3 linked regions of the Homo sapiens genome follow. The protein of the gene in region 3 purifies or fractionates together with the protein of the main gene of each other region. This does not show direct contact. Each region holds a gene or a part of one and is shown on either strand. Other genes may lie near its edges.

Region 1 (3,509 bases), on a different chromosome or scaffold from region 3:
GCAAGGGAAGCCCTGAGGCAGCTACGTTCTGCACGGCTGCCACTTACAGTCTGGGCTTCAGACTTGGGAGAACACATGCCAGAGAAAGAAAAGCTCTGCTGTGATTAAATCACAGATGCTGGGGGTGAGTGTGGGGTGGAAGGGTCTGGCACCCATGCCACCTGCTACACGCAGGAGCTCAATTATACGGTTACGTTCAATACTCAGTCAAGGGACAGGGAGTTGGGGAGAGCAGTGCCATTATAAACTTTGGTTACCTGGGAGAGCCTGGAGAGCTGTGGTTTTCTTAAAGTGGTTAAGTTCTCCTTTGGAAAGTCACCATTCCCTATCCTATGATCCTTTCTCACTAGGAACAACTGCATTTGCTCTTCCTGGCTTTCATATTTTAATTTGGTTCTGAAGCTACGCAGTGGTGGCAGACAAATGACTTGGGAATCAGATACCCTCATTTAATCCTGGAACAAGCTGTCTGAGTGACTTCTACCCCCATGAGGCCCAAAGAAAAACATAATGAAATGAAACCACTTGCTGCTATGAAACAAAAGTGGGCATATTTATGCAGTTGTTTTTATTTATTCAACTGTAAAGACTGCAGCAATTTTTTTGATGAGTAATGCCTTAGATTAACACTAATTATATTGCTATAAATTTGGTTCAGGATCAGAATAGGGTTCAGGAAAGGGAGAGAACAAAAAAAAAAGTCTCCAAACATTAAAACAGAAAAATGCTTTTTTTTTTTTTTTTGAGACTGAGTCTTGCTCTGTCTCCCAGGCTGGAGTGCAGTGGCACAATCTCAGCTCACTGCAGCCTCCGCCTCCTGGGTTCAAGCGATTCTCCTGCCTCAGCCTCCTGAGTAGCTGAGATTACAGGCACACGCCACCATGCTCAGCTAATTTTTGTATTTTTAGTACAGACAGGGTTTCACCATGTTGGCCAGGCTGGTCTTGAACTCCTGACCTAGTGATCCACCCGCCTCAGCCTCCCAAAGTGCTGGGATTACAGGCATGAGCCACAACGCCCAACCTTTTTTTTTTTAAACTTTAATTAAATGCTACTTTCTCATAGACTTCCCTAGACTGGTTTGCAATCTAAGGTAATAGGAAACAAGGCATTGGGCATTTTGAAGAAACTGCAGGTTAAGCTATGGTGCCAAGCAGAAGACTAAACACTGATTTGAGTGTCAAATCTCCAGCACATTCTGGGATAGAGGCAGGTTCTCAAATGTTTCCTAGTGTTCTTTCCTTTTCACTAATTAAATTTTCCCTTCTCTGGCGAATCCAGTGCAGTATACAACCCCCTGATTGCCTCTCTTGGTCAAATAGTTGTTAGAAGGGAACCTGTCAGGCACCTGTGGCTTCGGCTTAGATTGGAAAGGTGACAGACTAGCTCTGATTCACCTCCTCCTGAGACAGCCTGGACAGTGGAGGGATCAACTGGAAGGCCGAAACCTGGTAACAGCTGCCTCTGATTCCTGGTGGAAATGACCAACCAGATTCAATCCATATCACTGGGAAAGATCAAGGAAAAAAAATAGCTTCCCCTCCAAAAATGGTAAAGAGGAAATAAGGAGACAAGAAACCAAAAATACTTAGAATGGCACAAAAAGTGATACGCATAAACTTCTTTTTGTTATTACATCTAACTGTAAGTTTCCTAAAGTCCAGTTATCAAGTTGAATTGTGTGGATAGAGGAGAGAGGCCAACTGGATTTTCTCTCAAGAGTTCACGGCTTCAGTCTGAGAGGTCCTGGGTTTGCGCTGGGGGAGCCCCTTTTTGAATGAAGGCGTGGGAGGGCTGGGCTCCATGCTGACTCCAGTTCCATTGGTCCCTGCAGAGTGAGTCTGGCCTCTTTCAATGGTGTTTCCTGGTGCCTGAGATGGAGCACTCTGATACCTGGAACCAGATGAATACCACGAGCTGTTTCTGTAACGACCCATACTGTCATGCCGCCCTTGGTTCATGGGGTCATTGGACTTTTGGCCTTGTGGCCTATAGCCCTGTCCTCCTCGTCTGTTCCCTGGCAATACCTAAAGATGAAAGAATACAATGTTCAAGGTGCTCTAGCATTATGGTACCCCATTCGTTCACTTTACAGGAGTATTCTGAAAGCAGAATTGTGGTATCCCATGCTTGGGACTCAGTTATCTCTCAAGACTCAAAGAATTCTCTCAGCCAATCCAACCTAGCCACTACTTCAGAACTAATCCATCTTTCCCTGCTCTTCATGCCCAGGCTCTTCTCCACTGAAGAATTTACTTTTCTTTAGCTGGATGCAAGAAGAAAGATAAGGAAGAAAGAACATTCTCTGGGTTGTTACAAGCCCTCGATTGGACAAGTATATTATATTATGTCTGAACTCTGCAGATAAAAGGCCATTGGTAAAGATAATACACATTTGGAATAATAAAGTAAACATCACTATGGCCTGCTTTGCTAAATGTCATGAACTACAGATTAAAGTATGCTGCTGTGGCATTCAGCACATCTTTCGCATTATAATCCGGAAAGCTTACGGTATGGGATTTTATTTTTGTCCTCCAATTCCAAACATCATACCAGTTCTGAAGAATTACTGACAGTACTGCCTTGGATTGCTCTTGTGTTTATTCTTCAAACAGGAGAAGAACCTATGGATTACTCCTCAGCTTTCTAGTGTTTTCCCCCCATCCCCACCAGTTCACTCTCTCTTTCCCTGTAAATTCCACATTGTGCTTCTAGGGAGCTGCTGCTTTCAGATGCACACTGGTAAAACTGCCACTTGTGGTGCCTGTCTACCTTGAGATGGGTGCACGACTCCCAGTGTGACTAATTACCAGGCAATACTATCTACAACAGCAGGGATCACTGCCAACACAAGAAAGTCAGCAGTTCTTGGCAACAGGAAATCTAAACTGGCTGGCAGTTTGGAACATACGTATCTAATGCTTTCTCAGGAACTAACTTGGGTTGGAGGGATTCAAAACAGGCATGGAATGGGAATAGAGAGGAAGATAATATACTGAGCTAACAGCATTTAAGCTTTGACAATCTGGAGGGTTTTCTTCCTAACATGCTCAGTGTAGAAGCTAGGTTACCTCCCGAAGTGGCTGGTAGGGCTGGCCACTGGAGTTTGCTATGGCTGCAGGAGTCTCTCCCGGTGCAAAGTTTTTCTTGTTAGCACTTGTAAGGCTGGGAGGAGAGGCACAGGTGGAAGAGGAAGCAGCAGAGGCATCACTTGGGCTACTCAAGGACACAGATGTAACTGAGCTACATCGGGATCTGGTCGAATAGCTGTTCTTTGGATGAGACACTGAAACAGAAATATGAGGAATATATGATCATATGATAGAACAGCACAATGGATAAGGTTTCTACTTTCTCAATTTCACAATGAGCAATTTAAGATAAAGAACTGTCTATTCGAATAAAGAAAAACCTATAAAACTGGTAACAGGAAGAAAAATCTCCCTTCTGCCCTCTTCCTCCACTTCCTCCAAAGCCCCACTGCTTTGTAAAGGAATTCTTAGACA
Region 2 (7,045 bases), on a different chromosome or scaffold from region 3:
AATACTCACAGTGAAAAAGTCAATCTCTTTCTTTCTTTTTTTTGAGACTCGCTCTGTTGCCCAGGCTAGAGTGCAGTTGCGCGATCCCAGCTCACTGCAACCTCCGCCTCCAAGGTTCAACTGGGATTGTGCTAAGATTACAGGCGTGAGCCACCACGCCTGGCCCTAATCTCTTTTCTAATACTTCCTTTACATTAAGGAGAAAGTGTCAGTTTGGTGCTAGCCTACTATTTCTCTAAAAATTGCTAGTATCTTTTTTTTTTTTTGGAGACAGAGTCTCACTCTGTCGCCAGGCTGGAGTGCAGTGGCATGATCTCGATTCACTGCAACCTCCACCTCCTAGATTAAAGCAATTCTCCTGCCTCAGCCTCCTGAGTAGCTGGGACTACAGGTGCGCACCACCACACCCAGCTAATTTTTTTTGTACTTTTAGTAGAGACGGGGTTTCACCATGTTGGCCAGGATGGTCTCAATCTCTTGACCTCGTGATCCGTCTGCCTCGGTCTCCCAAAGTGCTGGGATTATAGGCATGAGCTGTCGCACTCGGCCTTTTTTTTTTTCCAGAAGGAAGGAATAGGTCCTGAAGTTTCACAAGTATCAGAATCTGGTTAATAACATTGTTTAGTTTTCATTGTACTTTACTTTTACAGTTTTATTTTCCTACAGCAAGTGATACAAGTTTTCCACTCATAGCAATAATATAATTATAAAATAAATTTAATTTTAAAAGTCACCTTGGAGAAAAATATTAACTGATAGCACAGATAATACTATAATGCAGCTAAAATAATGAGATTAGGTAAAAGAACGATAGAAATTTGGGAAGAACTGGGATAAATCATTGGCAAGACACTATCAAAATTTGTTGAATGAACGCACAAGCTGCACTCCTGAGGTAACACTTCCCAAAGAAGCTACTAGTCCTTGGAGATGCAGGCAGCAGCAGGCCTGGACACATGCAGGCCTGCTGTCCACATGCCCTGGAGAAGAGGTCCTGGGATTTGTTCATCCAATCTTACTGAGGGATGGATACTGACAGTAGGAAAAGTATCAATTTTGCAAATAAAAAGGAAAGTTTTTCATCTGCATGTTCTTGCAGCTGCCATGAATGGTCTCCTTAGCAGCTGAAATAGTATGCTCAGTTTCCACTTCCTACAAGAATTTCAGAGACTATTAAAGATATTGCCACAACTTATAAAAACGCTAAATAGAAGAGAGCTCCATCTTTAAACACAATATCCTTTACTTAAAAATTCTAAAAGTTGGAGAATAGGAGCCTTGCTTTTACCATGAATACAAATTACAGAAGACACATTCCTTCACTCAGCAAGCCTTTGTTAAATACCTACCATGTGCAAGATTGCAAGGGACAAGGATGAACCTAAAAATGAATAATGCCTCCTAACTGACCGACCCATTCTACATTTGCCTCCTATTTATTTATGACAGAGTCTTGCTCTGTCACCAGGCTGGAGTGCAGTGGCACGATCTCGGCTCACTGCAACCTCTGCCTCCCAGGTTCAAGTGATTCTCCTGCCTCAGCCTCCTGAGCAGCTGGGACTACAGGCTCGTACCACCAGGCCTGGCTAATTTTTTTGTATTTTAGTAGAGACAGGGTTTCACCATGTTGGCCAGGATGGTCTCGATCTCCTGACCTCGTGATCCTCCTGCCTCAGCCTCCCAAAGTGCTGGGATTACAGGCGTGAGCCACCACACCTGGCCTTGCTTCCCTTTTAGTTTAAAGGTTTATTTCCCACACAGTATTCAGAGCTATCTTTTTTACATGCACACCTTATCACTCTACTCCTCTGGTTAAATCCTTTTAATGTCATCCACTGTCCTTTTCTTTCTTTTCACAGGTATTGATTCCATTGTCTTTTTTTTTTTTTTTTTTTTTTTGAGATGGAGTCTTGCTCTGTTGCCCAGGCTGGAGTGCAGTGGCTCGATCTTGGCTCGCTGCATGCTCCGCCTCCCGGGCTCACGCCATTCTCCTACCTCAGCCTCCGGAGTAGCTGGGACTACAGGCGCCCGCCATCACGCCCGGAGAATTTTTTGTATTTTTAGTGGAGACGGGGTTTCACCGTGTTACCAGGATAGTCTCGATCTCCTGACCTCGTCATCCACCTGCCTTGGCCTCCCAAAGTGCTGGGATTACAGGCGTGAGCCACCACACCCGGCCTGATTCCACTGTCTTTAAAACAAATTTCAATATCCTTAAAATGGATTACAAAGCTGAGTCGCTGCCCACCCCAGCCTCATCTCACTTCCTCACTCATTTCTTCATTCCAACTGCACAAGCCTTTGCTTACATCCTCAAGTGGACCAAGCTCCTTTTCTCAGGGTCTTCACCACCCTCTCCCCATCTCTTTGCCTAACCCTGGTTCTCTTTTCATGTCCAAAGTAAAACATCATTTCCACAGGAAACCTTTTCTTGACCTGACCCCAACAGTCCAAATGCCCCTATTGTATGCTCTCATGGCAAACTGTCCTATTCCTTCAAATCCCTTAACATAACTGTAATGGTGATGTGTACTGTCATTTCAAGGAGATAAGCTCCTTGAAAGCAGAAACTATGTCTGTGCTGTTTAGTACTCATTTCCTGCATCTATATTGTGCCTAACACATATCAGGCCCTCAATAAATGTTGAATGAAGGAATGCATAAATGAACAAATTGTATGGGGGAAAAAAGGGCAGTCTGCTAGAAAAATGAAAGATATATATATAAGATAATACAGGCCGGGTGCGGTGGCTCATGCCTGTAATCCCAACAGTTTGGGAGGCCGAGGAAGGTGGATTGCTTGAGGTCAGGAGTTCAAGACCTGCCTGACCAACATGGTGAAATCCCATCTCTACTAACAATACAAAAATTAGCCAGGTGTGGTGGCAGGTGCTTGTAATCCCAGCTACTTGGGAGGCTGAGGCAGGAGAATCACTTGAATCCAGGAGGCGGAGGTTGCAGCGAGTGGAGATCACGCCATTGCACTCCAGCCCAGGTGACAGAGTGAGACTGCATCTTAAAAAATCTATCAAAAAAAAAAGATAATACAAAGTGATCACAACAGGAAGTTCAAAGAACCAGTGATTAGTGATGGCTACCAGCTATTAAATTTTTTCCAAATCTTTTCAACTTTTTTTTTTTTTTTTGAGACAGAGTCTAGCTTTGTCACCCAGGCTGCAGTACAGTGGTGCAATCCCGGCTCACTGCATCCTCCACCTCCTGGGTTCAAGCTATTCTCCTGCCTCAGCCTCCCGAGTAGCTAGGATTACAGGCGTGCATCACCATGCCCAGCTAATTTTTTTGTATTTTTAGTAGAGATGGGTTTTCACCACGTTGGCCAGGCTGGTCTGAAACTCCTGGACTCAAGTGATCCACCCAGGAGGCGGAGGTTGCAGCAAGCTGAGATCGCACCATTGCACTCCAGCCTGGGCGACAAGAGTGAAACTCCATCTCAAAAAAATAAAATAAAATAAAAATTTAAAAAACTAGCCAGGCATGGTGGCATGTGCCTGCAGTGCCAGCTACTCCAGAGGCTGAGGCGGGAGGATCACTTGAGCTCAGGAGGTCGAAGCTGCAGTGAGCCATGTTCACATCACTGCACTGCAGCCTGGACAACACAGCAAGACCTTGTCTCCAAAAACAGAAAAAAAAAAAGAAATGTACTAATCTCTTCATCTTGCCCTATGTTTCAACAACTACCCTCTAATCTATGTATTCATCTAAGAATATTTTTGTGCACTAAAACCTTCATTTTCAGTTTAAAAGTCTAGGTCAGGGTTTTTTGTTGTTGTTGTTTGTTTGAATTATTCAGCTAAGACAGCAGAATAGTTTTTTGTTTATTTGTTTTGACATAGAATCTTGCTCTGTTGCCCAGGCTGGAGTACAGTGGCACAATCTCAGCTCACTGCAGCTTGAAGTTCCTGGGTTCAAGCATGCACCATCACACTAGCTGCCCCCCCGCCCCCCGCAATGGAGTCTCGCACTGGAGCCCAGGCTGGAGTGCAATAGCGCGATCTCGGCTCACTGCAACCTCCGCCTCCTGGGTTCACGCGATTCTCTTGCCTCAGCCTTCTGAATAGCTGGGATTACAGATGCACACTACCACACCCGGCTAATTTTTCGTATATTTTTAGTAGAGACGGAGTTTCACTATGTCGGTGAGACTCGTCTCAAACTCTTGACCTCATGATCCGCCGGCCTCGGCTTCCCAAAGTGTTAGGATTACAGGCGTGAGCCACTGCACTCAGCCCTATTTTTTATTTTTTTGAGATGAAGTCTCGCTCTGTCCCCCAGGCTGGAGTACAGTAGCACAATCTCAGCTCACTGCAGCCTCCGCCTCCCGGGTTCAAGTGATTCTTCTGCCTCAGCCTCCTGAGTAGCTGGGGTTACAGGCGCCTGCCACCACACCTGGCTAATTTTTGTATTTTTAGTAGAGATGGGGTTTTGCCATTTTGGCCAGGCTAGTCTCGAACTCCTGGCCTCAAGCAACCCACCCACCTCGGCCTCCCAAAGTGCTGGGATTACAAGCATGAGCCACCTCACCCAGCCAAACCACTGTGCCCAGCTTTGTATGCTTGTTAACACTTGGCCAAAACTGAACACAAAAATAGTCCAGAATGTCACAGGTCCAGGGCAAAAGACCAACAGGGACTGTTTTGGTTATGAGCAAGGTTTTGGTATGGCAGAGGTGGTCTCAGCCATCCAATGGTGATGGAAGTTCTAGATTCATTGAGAGAAGTTCTAGTAAGTCAGGGCTTTTTAAATGGTCATATTTTCAGAATGGAAAAAAATAGGTTGTGCCAAGTGACTTTTCTACAGAAACGCAAGATAGTCTTCACTCACCAAGGTACCCTGTCACTTCTGAGGCAAAATAGGACCAGACTCACAAAGCTACCACACTGTCCAAGAGGAGGTCAGAATAAATACCACTTTTGATTGAGGACCTGCAAGTTTTCATTTATGAACTAGAGCAGTGGTCCCCAACCTTTTTGGCACTAGGGACCGATTTCATGAAAGACAATTTTTCCACAGATGGCAGGGAGGGATGGTTTCGGGATAAAACTATTCCACCTCAGATATCAGGCATTAGTTAGAGTCTCATAAGGAGCGCCAACCTCGATTCCTCACATGCATAGTTCACAACAGGGTTTGTGTTCCTACTCCTAAGAGCTGATCTGACAGGAGGCGGGGCTCAGGCAGTAATGCTCTCCCCCACAACACCCTGCTGCTCACCTCCTACTGTGCGGCCCATTTCCTAACAGGCCACAGACCAGTATCACACACCATCCTGGGGTCAGGAACTCCTAAACTATGAACTATAGTGGAATAATTACCTGAGCCAGGCACCCAAGAGAAATGTCCTAACTCAGCAAAGAAGTGACTGTCACCCGGGAGACACACTGGAAAATATCTTACACCTGATCCAGGCTAATCCAAGACTGCAGGTCAGTACGACATATTAAAACAAGGGATCTCATGCCTGTGTATGTGTGTATATTCTAAAGACTATGCACACATTTTTTCTACTTTGAACTTTCTCTATTTCTATTATGCAATTTGCTGACCTAGCAATTCCCATATTCTATACAAATTTATTAAGTGCCATACCTGACCATCAATTCCACTTCCAATTATCTAAAAATATGAGCGTGAAATTAAAAACAAAAAAGAAAAAAAAGAAAGAAAAATAAATAAATAAAAGTATGGGGTAGAGGAGGCTGCATAACAAAACAGAGTCAAATATTTATTATCTCCCTCCATCCCTTCCCTTCCCTAATCCATAACCACTGAAAATGTTTTAAAATTAAGAATAATGGGGCCAGGTGCAGTGGCTCACGCCTGTAATCCCAGCACTTTGGGAGGCTGAGGCAAGTGGACCACATGATCAGAAGTTCAAGACCAACCTGGCCAATGTGGTGAAATCCTGTCTCTACTAAAAATACAAAAAATTAACCTGGCGTGGTGGCGGGCGCCTGTATTCCCAGCTGCTCTGGAGGCTGAGGCAGGAGAATGGCGTGAACCCGGAAGGTGGAGCTTGCAGTGAGCGGAGATCACGCCACTGCACCCCAGCCTGCAGGACAGAGTGAGACTCCATCTCAAAAAAAAAAACAAAACAAAAACAAAAACAAAAATTAGCCGGGCATGGTGGTGCATGCCTGTAACCCAGCTACTCAGGAGGCTGAGGCAGAGAACTGTTTGAACCCAGGAGGCAGAGGTTGCAGTGAGCCAAGATCGCGCCACTGCATTCCAGCCTGGGTGACAGAGCAAGACTCCTTCTTAAAAAAATAATAATAATAATGGGCAGGGCGCAGTGGCTCACGCCTGTAACCCCAGCACTTTGGGAGGCCAAGGCAGGCAGATTGCTTGAGCTCAGGAGTTCGAGACCAGCCTGAACAACATGGTGAAATGCTGTCTCTACAAAAAATACAAAAATTAGCCAGGCGTGGTGGTGCCCGCCTGCAGTCCCAGTACTCAGGAGGCTGAGGTGGATGGATGACTTGAGCCTGGGAAGTGGAGGTTACAGTGAGCCAAGACACTCCAGCCTGGGTGACAGAGCCAGATCCTGTCTCAAAAAAATAACGAAAGAAGGCACTGGGGCTTACCAAGTCACACAAGAGTACAAAATCTGCTGGGAACTACGTAGCAAAAGAGAATAATTTTAGCAAAAGGAGACCAAATAATCAAGTATGGGTTCCAGTAAGGTCATGGGTGGAGGTTTTCAAAAACGAAAAATGCAATACCCAAACTTATTAGTAATGTGAGATGCACTGGGAAGATGTTTCAAATCTATGCACACAGAAAAGCTATTCCAACCCTAGACACCACCAGTAAAATTTCAACCCACCACAATTTATCACCACATAGCCCTGTCCACATATACCCTCAATGAATTCCAGCAAGAGCTGAGGCCCCAAGCAAGGTTTCCAACACAATTGTAAAATAAATCCTGAAACCTTGGCAGTACAAATACTGTTGTACAAAGACAGTGATGCTACTGAATCTGAACTTGGTGAAGAGCTGAGCTCTCAGTGAGAATGTCTATGTT
Region 3 (7,421 bases):
GGAAATTCAAGCCCTAATTTGGGATTTTTTTTTTAAAATAACGAGCTTCCCGAACCTTTACTGGAAAAAACAGAAGTGGGAGAAGGCTTGAGGGGCAAAAAGGAGTACTGTGTTGGGCAGGTAGTCCCTTCCCCAAGGACTCCCTGACTCCTGCCAAGAAATGACCTAGTGCCTGAGCCCAGAGAGATGCTCAGCTTCCCCGGTAGGCGAGAAATGCAAATTAAGGCAACAAGGATATAACCCTTTTCACTAATCACATTGAGAAAAATTAAAATGCTGATAAGATCAAATGTCGGTTAGGATGTGGGAAAGTTACTACTCTCTTGCACTGCTAGCGGGAGGGTAAATTGTCCAGCCACCCTGGAAGGCAGTTCGGTGGTGTCTTTTAATTTGAATGCATTTTCGCCCTGCAACCTCAGTATTCTCTTCTCAGTCTCTTGTCTAGGAAAGAATCACAGACATTTATTTCCAAAAGCATCCATATAGGGCTGTGCACTGTAGTAGAGAACAAAGAAAGAAAGAAAGAACAATGGTGGCAACCTTAGCACCCATCCATCCAGGACATAAATAAACTATGAAACATCCCATTTGGCAAAAGATCACATAGCATTTTAAAAGATAGGCAGAGGATCTGTAAGTTTCAGCATGGAAAGCTCACCAAGATGCCTCATAGACATTATAAAGCCAAATGAAGAACCATATGTACTGTAGGGTATAGTATATGGAAAACTATATATATGTCTATTAAAACAATATAAATATGGACATGCATTTATAAAGGTCTGCAAAGGAAACACACCAAATCAATTATGGTGGTTATATCTTTGAAGGGATCAGGATGAGGCGGTGTCAAAAGACTTGGCTTTATCTGTAGCGTTTACAGTTTTGCTTTGAGAATATATTTATATATTCCTTGTGCAATTAAATATATAGTATTTTTATTTTAAAAAGGGTATGGGAGGCTGGGTGTGGTGGCTCATGCCTGTAACCCTAGCACTTTGGGAGGCCGAGACGGAAGGATCACTTGAGGTCAGGAGTTCGAGACCAGACTGACCAACATGGTGAAACCTCATCTTTACTAAAAATACAAAAATTAGCCGGGTGTGGTGGCACATGCCTGTAATCCCAGCTACCTGGGAGGCTGAGGCAGGAGAATCACTTGAATCCGGGAGGCAGAGGTTGCAGTGAGCCGAGATCGAGCATTGCACTCCAGCATGGGCAACAAGAGTGAGACTCAGTCTCAAAAAAAAAAAAAAAAAAAAAAGGTTTGGTATGAGAGTTCAGGCTGTAGTGAGTTATGATCGCACTCCAGCCTGGACAACAGAGTGAGACCCTGTCTCTAACATTAAAAAAAGTGGAGGGGGCTTCACTCTACAGAAAGGAAGCACATGAGCTTCAGCTGCCAAACCAAACCAGCAAAGCCCCCCAAGCACCTCTCACATCTCTTCCTTCCCTTCATCTCCCCAAGACCTTGGCACTCCAAACTCTTACCTTCCCCCAGGTGAGGGCTTGCAGAGCTGGGACAGGGTGTCTCTAGCCAGGGCTTTGTCCCCTCTGCCCTCTTGGGGGGAAAGGGGGAATACCTCACATTGCCCATTGGAAATGGAAGAGGGCATAGTTCCTCCTTTGCTGCATAGTTCCTCCCTCCTGCCTAAAGCCCACTCTGCCACTCTCCTCCCACTGCCTAAGGTTCAGATGACTAGAATTGATCCATAGCATGGAGTCCTCTCTTCCTGTAGGATTAAAGGGGAACTGGGTCTTCCCTCTCCCCCACCGTGACCCACCGCTGGACTAACAGCCTGCTCCTTCCTTTCCCTCTGTATCATTCAGCAGGCATCCACTCGCACCTACTATGGTTCTATGCAGGGGTCCACCGGGGTCCTGGGTCAGCTGAGGGCCTCTCTCTCCAGCAGCCCCTGGGCTCCGTGAAACACGCCTGGTTACTTTGCATTCTCCCCACAGTGATTAATTTGGCGCTGGCCACTGGTAAGTGCTCAGTTTTCCTAAAGCAGTCCCCAAACTCAATTCTGAGGCAACCCACCATAGACTTCAGCCCCACCACTGACCTTCTTCCAGGGGCAAATGCCCACCACGTGCTCCAGCGAATTCAATCCACAGCGTTGCTTTGCCGGACGCGGATTGGGGAAGCTAATCCCGGTGGTCCTGCACCCTCACCCCACTCTCACCCACAGCCAACTCTCCCTCCTTTCCTTGACCCTCCAGCCAGTGGCCAGCTTAGGAAGGGGGCAAACGGGACCGCGCACACAACAGGGTAGAGCGCGGACGACCAACCTCCCATGGCTAAGGGAGGCCCCATCTGGCCTGCCCACTACTCCCACGGCCTCACCTGATCTGCCCAGGACCCCGACGGGCCCGCAGGTAGGCGGGCTAAAGAGCGCCTCCCGCGTATGGCAGTGCTCTCAGTCCAATTCACACTGAATGAATGAATCAGTCCCAGCCATCGCGGGGTGAGAAGGAGGCGCCCCCCACCACTAGCCCTTCAGCCAGCCTCCCACCTGTGGGTGCTAGCATATTCCGGTGTTCCTGCTTGTCACCCGCGCCCCCTCACTCCAGCTGGGCAGGGAACGGGGTGAGGAGTGTCCTCCCTTGCGTCCCACGCACCCCACACTGTCCGGGCTCTGGACCGCCGGCACCTCCCCAGGCGCCCGTCACCCGCTTACCTGTGGGAAGGCTCGTAGCGCCCCCAGGAACAGCAGTCCCAGCGCGGCGAGGAGGACGCGCATCCCCGGGGCCGGACGTGAGGTGGCCTGGCGGCCGGCGCCCACCTGGGAAGCGGGGGAAGCGCGCGGCGCCCACGTGCGGTCCCGGCGGTTCTCAGCCGCGCGCGTGGACTTCAGGCTCCAGCACACTCCCGCCGCGGCCACCTAGTCCGCACCCAACGCACGCCGCGAAGTCACTTCAAAAGTGGTTGTTCCTCCGAGGTTTCAGCCTTAGTTCTCCCGTATCAAATTGGTTCCAGGAACACTTAGCTACAAGCAGCGAAGAAAAAAGGGGGCAAACACGTGCAGAGATGACTCAGGAAAAGGCACACTAGGAGACGCCTCCCTTAGCTGTTTGAATGGCCCGCCCCGGATTTGACGGAACTAGTGGTCCTGGCTCTAGGGAGTGTGCTGCCCGCCGCACCTGGGCTGCGGGGAGCGGAGGCAGGCAGCTTCTGGCCCTGGAGGTGGGGACTCACAGGATATTAGGAGGCCCCAAGGGGGTTCCAATGCCCCCACCTCCACTCCTGCCCCAAGAAACGGTGAAATGTGAGTAGTTTCCTGTCCCTGACACGATCAGCCAGGACCTTCTCCCATGCCCTTGAGATTCTTTGGAAGGGACAACTGGCCTAGGGAGACTGCAGAAAAAGCAACCATCACCCACCCATCCCCATTCATAAGCATTTGCTGTAAAATGAATCAGTGAGTGGATGATAAATTGGTGGATGGATGGATGGATGGATGGATGCATAGGTGGATGGATGGATGGATGGATGGATGGATGGATGGATGGATGGATGCATAAGTGGATGGATGGATGGATGGATGGATGGATGGATGGATGGATGGATGCATAGGTGGATGGATGGATGGATGGATGGATGGATGGATGGATGGATGGATGCATAAGTGGATGGATGGATGGATGGATGGATGGATGCATAAGTGGATGGATGGATGGATGGATGGATGGGTGAGCAGCAGGTGAGTGGGTAAATGGGTGGGTGGATGGGTGGATGGATGGATGCATAGATGGATGGATGGATGGATGCATAGGTGGATGGATGGATGGATGGATGGATGGATGGATGCATAAGTGGATGGATGGATGGATGGATGGATGGATGGATGGATGGATGGATGGATGCATAGGTGGATGGATGGATGGATGGATGGATGGATGGATGGATGGATGCATAAGTGGATGGATGGATGCATAAGTGGATGGATGGATGGATGGATGGATGGATGGATGGATGGATGGGTGAGCAGCAGGTGAGTGGGTAAATGGGTGGGTGGATGGGTGGATGGATGGATGCATAGATGGATGGATGGATGGATGCATAGGTGGATGGATGGATGGATGGATGAGCAGCAGGTGAGTGGGTAAATGGGTGGGTGGATTGGTAGATGGATGGACTGAATGTTGGAGGAACTGATGGATGGTATAGATCATTTTATTTCCCTGAGGCCTGACCCTTTAGAGTTTTCTTCCTGGAGGAGGCGGCTGGCACTCTCTCCTAACAGAAATGATTCAAGCCTCCTCGTACTATGTTCTCATTTGCTGGTGAATGATTTTCCCTTCCAGTGCTTCCCCATCCCCTGGGTTTTCTCTTTGCTCCTTTTATTCCACATTCCGTGTGTCTGTGTTGAGCATCTGCTGGGTGGGCCACAGGTCAAGGGTTCTTTTGACTGATTTTGTTTGGTTTTCAGATGTGAAAGCCAAGGCTCAGAAATAGGCAGGCAGTCCTAGGTGCTCTAATTAAGGGTGGGCCAGTTATTTTCCCTGAGCCCAGAATAGCCTAAGGATACTCTGGCTTCTGTGTCTACCTTGATCTGTCCTGCGAGGTACCAGGCCTCCATCAGGTGAAGGCCCTATAGGGTAGGAGTGATAACCTCCCACCAGGAACTTCCCAGCAAGGTCTCCACAACTGACCACTCCATGCTCAACCCTCCTGGGGCTGCTGGACTCCACTTGGGAAAACTGCTCCATCATGCCCCTTCCCAAGAGACCCACTTCCAGACTCTCCTCTGGATGTACCAGGCCCAGTATCTTAGGCTGTTTGAGCTGGGACTATGTTAAACAATGAGGTAAGCAATTATGGAAGTGACCTGCCTGTGATAATGACAGAACCAGACAGGGACAGGAGGAACGCAAGACACCTGCTTCCCAGTCCAGAGCTTTCTACTACAAAAGTAGAAAAGCTGGCAGCTGGGTGACATGGCTCATATCTGTAATCCCAACACTTTGGGAGGCCGAGGTTGGAGGATCACTTGAGCCCAGTTTGAGACCAGCCCGGGTAACGTAGCAAGACCTCATCTCTATTTTTTGTTTAATTAAAAAAGAGAGAGAGAGAAGGGCTGGTGTTTTGAATAAATAAATGAACAACAGCATCAAAATAGCTTGCACAAGGAGAAATACAAATAAAAATCAATTACAAGTTTTATAAGTTTAACCTTTTTAGTAATTAAAGAAATGCAAATTCAAGCAACCTTTGATAACCTTTTAGATCTATACAATCATCATTTTTTTTTTTTTGCTTTATAAAAACAATTTTGGTAAATCCAACCCCAAAGTTGTGGTGAGACCAGAATACTCATTCATACTCTGCTGGTAAATGTTACAACCCTTTTCAGAAAGCAGTATGGCAATTTTTAGCAAAAGCCAAAAAAAAAAAAAAATGTGTACTACTTGTGAGTGGCTCAGTAATTTCACCTCAGTGAAGAAAAACTAAGGAAATAATTTAACTGGAAAACTAGAAAAAGAAAAAAGAAAACTATACAGTAACATTTCCTTATATATTATTTATAAATTTTTGAAATACTCTGAGATTCACAACAAGAAATGATTACGGAAATTGTGGTACATCCATTTAATGGAATATTGCACATCCATTAAAAAGGATAAATCTATAGATGTTGTGGAAACTTGTCTCTCCCTCATATCCTTCCCTCCATGGATTTCCAAAGAGACCTTTCTAGCACACACATCTCACCAAGACACTCCCCTGTAGAGAACCCTTGCGGAAGTATGGTGTGTGTTTTGGCAGAGGACCACGTAGAAAATTATATTATTCATTTAATGATAACAATAACAGCTACCTTTGAGTGCTTATTTTGTGCTAAGAGTTTTCAGGCATTGGTTTCTTGTATCCTCATGAAAACCCCATGAACAAGGTCCTACTTTTATGCCCATTCTGCAGGAAAGGAACCCCTGCAGTGGCTCCCCTGGGTCAGAGTCACCCAAATGCAAGGGTGCACAAGTCTGCTCACAGCCTGGCAGGGGCTGACTCCTCCCTTGTGCCTTTTTACTTCTCCTGGACCTATACTCCAGCCAAATGTGCAGCCTTCTCACCCCTGCCAGCCTTTGCCCACGCTGGCCTCCACCTGGGACGCACACAGACTCCTGATCATCTTCCTAACCTGTTCCAATGCCACCTCCTCCTTGTTGCTTTCCTGGCAGTGTCTCCTGTCCCCCAGCCCTCTTCCCAGTCAAAAAGTGGTTTCTGTCATTTTTTGTGCCGCAATTCTAGATCTGATCTCATCATGTCATAACCATAATGACTGGTTCATGCATCCCTCTGCCCCAGGAAACTGTGTACTCCTGAGAACCAGAATTCCCCCAGGGCGCCCAGGAAAGTAGCTGACACATGGCTTAAGTGGAGGGAAGGCACATTTTGTGGCCAGGGAGCCAGCTGGATCCCAGGGGGAGATGGGCTGGTAGCAACCAAGGAAAACAGCCATTCATGGGACTCTTAAAAGCAGGCAGTGGATAGAGCCCCCGGGTGCCCTCGGCAGGTTTCAGGTGGTATGAAAGTGCTGTGAAGAGTAGAAGGGGAAGTCCCTAGGCTCTGTGCAAGGCACAGCAGCAGTCCTTGTTGTGGGGTCGTGGGGCCCTCCAGAGCAAGCTGTGGAAGGAAGCCAAGCCCGAGGGGCTACAGGAGACTGGGGAGCGAGGAGCGCTTGCTCACACAGTCTCAGCTCGGTGGGCTTCTTGGAGGAAAGGTGAGGAAGGTGAATGCAGTAGGAAGCCATCCAAGGGGAATTGGGAATCTGTGTCCCCAAAGTGATGCTGAGCAAGACACAAGGTCCCAACTTGGTTCAGGAAATTCAGGGACTTCCTCCAACAGCTGGGAACCCGAGTCCCAAATGGCCCCAAAATACCCTTAGCAGATAAAGGGTTCTTTCTGGCCCAGGCAGCAGCTGGCAGGTAGGAGGCTGGAAATCAGAGAGGGGAGGCTGGGGCCTTTCTTCTTCAATAGGTCCAGGTGCACCTTTTCTTTCTTTCTTTTTTTTTTTTTTTGAGATGGAGTCTCACTCTGTTGCCCAGGCTGGAGAGCAGTGGTGCAATCTCGGCTCACTACAACCTCCCCCTCCCCAGGTTCAAGCGATTCTCATGCTTAGCCTCCCGAGTAGCTGGGATTACAGGCGAGCATCACTGCACTCAGCTGATTTTTGTATTTTTAGTAGAGACAGGGTTTCACCATGTTGGCCAGACTGGTCTTGAACTCCTGACCTCAAGTGATCTGCATGCCTTGGTCTCCCAAAGTGCTGGGATTACAGGCAAGAGCCACCGCGCCCAGCCGCAGGTGCACCTTTTCTGAGCAACTTTCTTGGGAGCCTTGGTAGCAGTAGGACTCTCCATTAGGCTTCTCTGGGTCACCCTTGGCCTCCACCAGTCCTAATCGGCAGGACCCATGT

Evidence for each region.
Region 1: the proteins of TNFRSF8 (region 3) and SPATS2 purify together in Homo sapiens (affinity purification with mass spectrometry; 2 studies listed by BioGRID and IntAct, with this or other methods). This does not show direct contact.
Region 2: the proteins of TNFRSF8 (region 3) and NAA25 purify together in Homo sapiens (affinity purification with mass spectrometry; 2 studies listed by BioGRID and IntAct, with this or other methods). This does not show direct contact.

The regions. Positions count from the first base shown.
Region 1 is NC_000012.12:49,524,462-49,527,970, reverse strand, and holds the end of SPATS2 (spermatogenesis-associated serine-rich protein 2), read right to left. Parts: intron 3,290-3,509; coding exon 3,075-3,289; intron 2,028-3,074; coding exon 1,716-2,027; 3' UTR 546-1,715; downstream 1-545.
Region 2 is NC_000012.12:112,098,739-112,105,783, forward strand, and holds part of NAA25 (N-alpha-acetyltransferase 25, NatB auxiliary subunit), read right to left. Parts: intron 1-7,045. UniProt on the Homo sapiens protein: Non-catalytic subunit of the NatB complex which catalyzes acetylation of the N-terminal methionine residues of peptides beginning with Met-Asp, Met-Glu, Met-Asn and Met-Gln. May play a role in normal cell-cycle progression.
Region 3 is NC_000001.11:12,058,922-12,066,342, reverse strand, and holds the start of TNFRSF8 (tumor necrosis factor receptor superfamily member 8 isoform 1 precursor), read right to left. Parts: upstream 3,041-7,421; 5' UTR 2,745-3,040; coding exon 2,682-2,744; intron 1-2,681. UniProt on the Homo sapiens protein: Receptor for TNFSF8/CD30L. May play a role in the regulation of cellular growth and transformation of activated lymphoblasts. Regulates gene expression through activation of NF-kappa-B.